2 linked regions of the Homo sapiens genome follow. The protein of the gene in region 1 interacts with the protein of each later gene in a pairwise test. Each region holds a gene or a part of one and is shown in the gene's direction. Other genes may lie near its edges.

The links.
Region 2: the proteins of MRI1 (region 1) and ATF7IP interact in a two-hybrid assay, tested with the Homo sapiens proteins (one large-scale study listed by IntAct).

What each region holds. Positions count from the first base shown.
Region 1 is NC_000019.10:13,767,522-13,771,021, forward strand, and holds part of MRI1 (methylthioribose-1-phosphate isomerase), read left to right. Parts: intron 1-837; coding exon of another isoform or gene 838-926; exon of another isoform or gene 927-1,039; coding exon 1,040-1,216; intron 1,217-1,302; coding exon 1,303-1,527; intron 1,528-2,056; coding exon of another isoform or gene 2,057-2,076; exon of another isoform or gene 2,077-3,500.
Region 2 is NC_000012.12:14,428,182-14,431,681, forward strand, and holds part of ATF7IP (activating transcription factor 7-interacting protein 1), read left to right. Parts: intron 1-3,500. UniProt on the Homo sapiens protein: Recruiter that couples transcriptional factors to general transcription apparatus and thereby modulates transcription regulation and chromatin formation. Can both act as an activator or a repressor depending on the context.

The sequences.
Region 1 (3,500 bases):
AGACCCTGTCTCTATTTTTAAGCCTGTAATGCCAGCACTTCGGGAGGCCAAGGTGGGCGGATCGCTTGAGCTCAGGGGTTCAAAACCAGCCTGGGCTTCATGGCAAAACCCCATCTCTACAAAAAATACTAAAATTAGCTGGGTGTAGTGGTATGCACCTGTGGTCCCACCTATTCGGGAGGGGACTGAGATGGGAGGATTGCTTTTTATTTATTTATTTATTTTGGAGACAGAGTCTTGCTCTGTCACCCAGGCTGGAGTGCCATGGCACGACCTTGGCTCCTTGCAACCTCTGCCTCCTGGGTTCCAGCGATTCTTTTCAAGTATTTTCTTTCTTTCCTTTTTTTTTTTTTTTTTTTTTTTTTGAGACAGAGTCTTGCACTGTTGCCCAGGCTGGAGTGCAGTGGCGCAGTCTCGGCTCACTGCAAGCTCCGCCTCCCAGGTTCACGCCATTCTCCTGCCTCCGCCTCTCGAGTAGCTGGGACTACAGGTGCCCGCCACCACGCCCGGCTAATTTTTTGAACTTTTAGTAGAGATGGGGTTTCACCGTGTTAGCCAGGATGGTCTCGATCTCCTGACCTCGTGATCCATCTGCCTAGGCCTCCCAAAGTGCTGGGATTACAGGCGTGAGCCACCACGCCCAGCCCAAATATTTTCAATCCACATGGTTGAGTCCATGGATGGAGAACCCATAGAAAAGGGGGGCTGCCTGTACACATGAGGTGTTAGAAGGTGATAAATGCTAAGGACAGAGAGCAGGAAACTGAAAGTGTGGGGATTGCTATGCAAAACTGATATATCAGGGAAGGCTTCACCGAGAAGGTGTCCTTTAAACAGACGTGAAACGGAGCTATGCGAGCATTGGGAAGAGCATACCAGGCAGAGGGAACTGCCACTGCGAGGGCCCCTGGGCGGGACTGTGCTCGGTAAGCCTTTGGCAATCCACGCCCAGACTAGGAGCCTGCACCCCTAACCAATGGACCACCCTGTCTGTTTGCCCCTCCCCGGGGCCTTCTCCTGGTGGGTGGGGCCCCCGCAGGTGTGATTCGCTCACTGCACAGCCTGGGCCGCCTGGAGCATGCCTTCTGCACAGAGACCCGGCCCTACAACCAGGGAGCCCGGCTGACGGCCTTTGAGCTGGTCTATGAGCAGATCCCCGCCACCCTTATCACCGACAGCATGGTGGCTGCTGCCATGGCCCATAGGGGCGTGTCAGGTAAGCAGACGGTAAGCCCTGGGGGCGGGGCTCTGGAGCATGGGGCCAGGTAATGACCCCCAACTTCTCATACGCCCCCTCCCCAGCTGTGGTCGTGGGAGCTGACCGCGTGGTTGCCAACGGCGACACAGCCAACAAGGTGGGCACCTACCAGCTGGCCATTGTCGCCAAGCACCATGGCATTCCCTTCTACGTGGCTGCCCCCAGCTCTTCATGTGACCTCCGTCTGGAGACCGGCAAGGAGATCATTATTGAAGAGCGACCGGGCCAGGAGCTGACCGATGTTAATGGGGTCCGGATTGCAGCACCTGGTAAGCTGCCCCCTCAGAAAGGGGACACCCCAGCTCCTGGGCACTTCATGGAGGCAGGTGATATGCAGGTCCTTGTCATCCTTCTGGAACATACACAGCTCCTACAAGCCACTTTTTCTTTTTTCTTTTTTTTGAGATGGAGTCTTGCTCTGTCCCTCAGGCTAGAGTGCAGTGGCACGATCTGGGCTCCCTGCAACCTCCACCTCCCGGGCTCAAGCAGTTCTCCTGCCTCAGCCCCCCAAGTAGCTGGGACTATAGGTGGGTGCCACCACGCCTGGCTAATTTTTGTATTTTTAGTAGAGATGAGGTTTCAACATGTGGACCAGGCTATTTATTAACTACTGACCTCAAGCAATCAGCCTGCCTCTGCCTCCCAAAGCGCTAGGATTACAGGTGTGAGCCACAGCACGCCTGGCCCAAGCCACTTCTTCTAACAGGTGCATCCTGGAGGTCAGATCCAATGTTGGAATTTACAACTAACCGGTTATATGAATGATCTTGAGTAACTGTCTTGCTATTCTCCACTTAGGTTTTCTTAAGAGGAAATAAGAATATCTGGCTGGCCACGTGTTTGTAAAGAAAAACCAAGACGGCCAGGCGAGGTGGCTCACACCTGTAATCCCAGCACTTTGGGAGGCCGAGGCGGGCAGATCACAAGGTCAGGAGTTCGAGACCAGCCTGGTCAACATAGTGAAACCCCGTCTCTACTAAAAATACAAAAATTAGCCGGACATGGTGGCACCCGCCTGTAGTCCCAACTACTCAGGAGGCTGAGGGAGGAGAATCACTTGAACCTGAGAGGCGGAGGTTGTGGTGAGCTGAGATTACACCATTGCACTCCAGCCTGGGCAACAGAGTGAGATTCTGTCTCAAAAAAAAAAAAGAAAAGAAAAAGCAAGATATTTCTACACTTATTTTTATTTGTTTATTTTCATAGAGATAGGGTCTCGCTATGTTCCCCAGGCTGGTCTCAAACTCCTGGCCTCAAGCGATCCTCCTGCCTCAGCCTCCCAAAGCACTGAGATTACAGGTGTGAGCTCCCATGCCTAGCTGCAAGACTTTTCTTAGCTGCCTATACTTCCTGGCTGTGCAACCGTTAGCAAGTTCCCTAAATTCTCTAATTCCCTAAGATCCTCACTGGTCCTATCTGTAAAATGGGCTATGGCTAGAACCTGCTGCATAAACCCAAGGGCGGTCAGTGAATTAACCCACAGGACATTTAGATCAATGACTGGCCCTTTAAATAGTTCATGCACTCAGATGCCGTGGCTCACGCCTATAATCCCAACACTTTGGGAGGCGGAGGTGGGCGGATCACTTGAGGTCAGGCGTTCCAGACCAGCCTAGCCAACAGAGCGAAACCACGTCTCTACTAAAAAAATATAAAAATTAGCCAGGCGTGGTGGCACATGCCTGTAGTCCCATCTACTTGGGAAGCTGAGGCATGAGAATTGCTTGAACCTAGGACGCAGAGGTTGCAGTAAGTTGAGACTGCACCACTGCACTCCAGTCTGGGTGACAGAGCGAAACTCCATCTCAAAAATAAAAAAAAAGGCCGAGCGCTGTGGCTCACGCCTGTAATCCCAGCACTTTGGGAAGCCGAGGCGGGCGGATCACCTGAGGTCGGGAGTTCAAGACCAGCCTGACCAACATGGAGAAACCCTGCCTCTACTAAAAATACAAAATTAGCCGGGCGTGGTGGCACATGCCTGTAACCCCAGCTACTCAGGAGGCTGAGGCAGGAGAATTGCTTGAACCCGGGAGGCGGAGGTTGCAATGAGCCAAGATAGCGCCACAGCACTCCAGCCTGGGCAACAAGAGTGAAACTCCATCTCAAAGAAAAAAAAGAAAAAACAGTTCATGAAATATTAGCATGAACCAATATTAGCATTATGGGGCCAGGTAAAATGGCTCACACCTGAAATCCCAGTATTTTGGGAGGCTGAGGTGGGAGGATCACTTGAGCTCAGGAG
Region 2 (3,500 bases), on another chromosome or scaffold:
CAGCTTATGATTTAATGAGTACCTTTATGTCAGAATCTTGATATTGGAGGGCATCCCACACAAGGCAGTTAAGTGCTGAGAGATGAATATTAAGCCATCCATGTTGCATACTTTGAAAATTCAAAGTTGGGAATATTTTTGGTTACTTGCCTTTAATCTGATGGTATGCTATTAGCAGGGTAAATTTAGTGATAGATTTAATTTCTTGGCTCATAACTAAACTTTTATTTTGTATCTTTTCCCCTTCCTCTGAAGGTAATTTTGTGTATTTTGAGTTTAAGAATAGTTTCTTAATTGGTTCTTAAACTGTACTCTGTTCTCTTTATATGGCGACAGAATCTGTTGCATGTCATTTATGTTGCTGTACTCCTGTTGAAATGTTACTTAAATAAATGCCTTTATTCTTGACTAATTTTTAATATACTCAGAACACAGAATTATTAGCTGAAGTACTAAAGTTGGCTTCAGTACTGGCTCTTCCTTCTAGCTACTAACATCTATGAGTGTAGTAAAAGGAAAATAGCATAACCTTCTGTCATTTCAGGCACTTGTTGAGCAAATATGTTTTAAATAAAGCAATTGTGATGTGTATCAGCAGCAACAAGAAATAATGAAAGATAAAGCAAATAGAAAAGCTATTTTAATTTTACAAAAGTAGAAGAAAGAACTAAAAAAGTGTTGCATATATACCTTAATAGGTCTAGAGACATTACTGAATTGTGACATAGTATTATGTTATAACTAATACTCACTAATTATTAAAATGATAATCTGTTTAAAGAGGATAGCAAAATAAAGATTTATCTCTCTGGGAAAGTTCAAACACTAGAGGAGCTTCATCGCCATACCATATACTTTCCTCTAACTACTATTTCATCTCTTTCCTTTCTTTTAGTGCCATTCTTCAAGTTATATTAACAAAGCTAGGACCATTTCTTCTTCTGTTAGGCCTTCCACTTAATTGGATTTTGATTTCTGCCTTGGTAGCTGCCGCCCTCCTAATTTTTCTCAGTGAAATGACATTGATGATCATGTTATTAAATCCGGGGACATCTTTTCTTTGTCTTATCTATTCTTCCATACTTGGATGACCTCTTAATAACAGTTCTTCCCTCTTGAGACTCCCCTTAGCTGTTGGGTTACTGCATTCTCCATCTTCCCTTCTTTTTTGGCCTTTCTCATTCTATTTCTTGTGGAAAAATAGGGATAGGCCTCCTCCACGTGCTTTTTTTTCTTAAACATAAGATTTTTGAAGAGAAAAATCTGTTTTAGAGTGAACTAGATTTTTTTTGCATTAAACACTGACATAGTTTCCTTGCAGATTTTATTTCAGATTAAAATAAAAATCTGTGGTTGATATTTTCCTCCCCTTGTTCATTGGATCTTTAAGGTAAATAAAATAAACATAAACTGATGCTAATGAGGATAATTACATTAGACTAGAATTTGAGACTTCCTTCTATTTTTGCTGTAGGTTAGTATTGATAGAATTGGCATGATTTAGTCAATTTACTGTTAATTTGTTGTCACTGTTTATTGTGTTCAGTTAAAATTCTTTATCATCTCAATCCATTTATATTTAGCTGTTACTTATGTACTTGGCTTCTCTTTGTGGAGCTTCTTAGTTCTATTCACTAGTGTGCAAGTTGCAGATTTTTCTTTTCAGAGTTGAGGAAGACCAAAGATGAAGTAGATTTTGGAAGGAGGTGTATAGGAGGAAGATCATTTTTCAAATGAGTACTGTTGTCCAAGTTAGATGTGTAAGTCTGGATTTCAGATCAGAGACTTGACTTGTATTAGAAAAATATAGTAGGTAGCATGTAGCTATTAGGTGACAAGATGAAATCACCTCAGAGTAAGTATACATGGAGAAAAGATCCAAGAATTGTGCTTTTGGCATTTCAGTGTTTAGGGTTGGGGAGATAAGGAAGAACCAACAAAGGAGCTGAGAAAGAGCAGCCCCTGAGGTAGGAAGAAAATGGAGAGATTTTGGTGTTTCAGAGATTTTGGTGTTTCAGAAGCCAAGTAAAAACACTGTTTTGAGGAGGGAATAAGGTAACCGTTTACTATATCAAATGCTGCTGTGTGTGCTCATAAGATGGAAGAGAAGTATTTAACAATCTGGAGATCATTGGTGACTTTTACCAAGGGGCAGTTTTGGTGAATGGTGGAGTGGAAAACCTGATTTGGGTTTCAGAGAGAATGGGAGGGGAAGAATTGGAGATAATACAATGGGACTTTCCCCGCTAGGTTTTGCTTTTAAAGAGAGCACAAAAATTCACATAGGAGATATTATTTGCCATTCTGTATTGGTTAAATAAAACTAATACAAAATGTCTGGAAAAGTCACATTACCAGTCATGCCTTATTTTTCTGATAGATCTTGTTAGGTTGAGAATCTTTATATGTTTATTGGCCTTTTATAGTTCCTTATCTGTGAATTGCCTGTTCATCTCCTTTGCCCATTTTTCTAATGGATATTGTCTTTAATTTGTCTGTAGGAATTTCTTGTTTTGTTACAAATATTTTCATGGAGCCAGTAATCTAAATCAGTGAATGGGGTAGACTGGCCTGTGAGCCCTGTTTTTGTAAATAAAGTTTTATTTACATAAACATAGCTATGGTAATTTGTTTACATGTCACATAGCACTTATTGCACTTATTTGTTTACATGTCACATAGCACTTATTGCTGATTCCTGCAACAAGGACAGAATTAAGAGGTTGTGTCAGACAGAGGTCATGTGGCCCACAAGATTGAAAATATCTATTTTTTGGCCGCTTACAAAAAAGATTTGCCAATCTCTTATCTAAGGCAATGGTTTTTGTCCTCCATTTTTCCTTAGAATAAAGTTCTATAAAGTATAATTCTGAAATGGGAAACTAAGTCCCCTAATGTAAATTCTATTTTGTAATCCTTTAAAAACACAGTTTTCTACCTTTACTTAATGGAACCTTATTAAAGATAGTAGTCATCTGATAGTATTAAACATGTAATTTGTCTCAGCTATTTCTCAAAGTGTTTGGGATTACCAAAATTATGAGATCTGGTATCTGCCCTTAATGAGCTTACTGTCTAGTCTGCTTGAAAGGAAAGAATATGGAACTATGAAAACTTGCCAAATTGTGATAAGGCTATAGCCTTATCCTCAAGAAAATCAAAGGAATTATAACAGAAACTTATCTGTAAGTAAGGACAGATTCTAAAAAAAACATTCTTTTTTTTTTTTTTGAGATGGCGTCTCGCTCTGTCACCCAGGCTGGAGTGCAGTGGTGCGATATCGGCTCACTGCAAGCTCCGCCTCCCGGGTTCAAGCGACTCTCCTGTCTCAGCCTCCCGAGTAGCTGGGACTACAGGCATGTACCACTACATACAGCTAATTTTTTATATTTTTAGTAGAGACAGGGTTTCACCATGTTAGCCAGGATGGTCTCGATCTCCTGACCTTGTGATCCGCCCGCCTCGGCCTCCCAAAGTGCTGGGATTATAGGTGTGAGCCA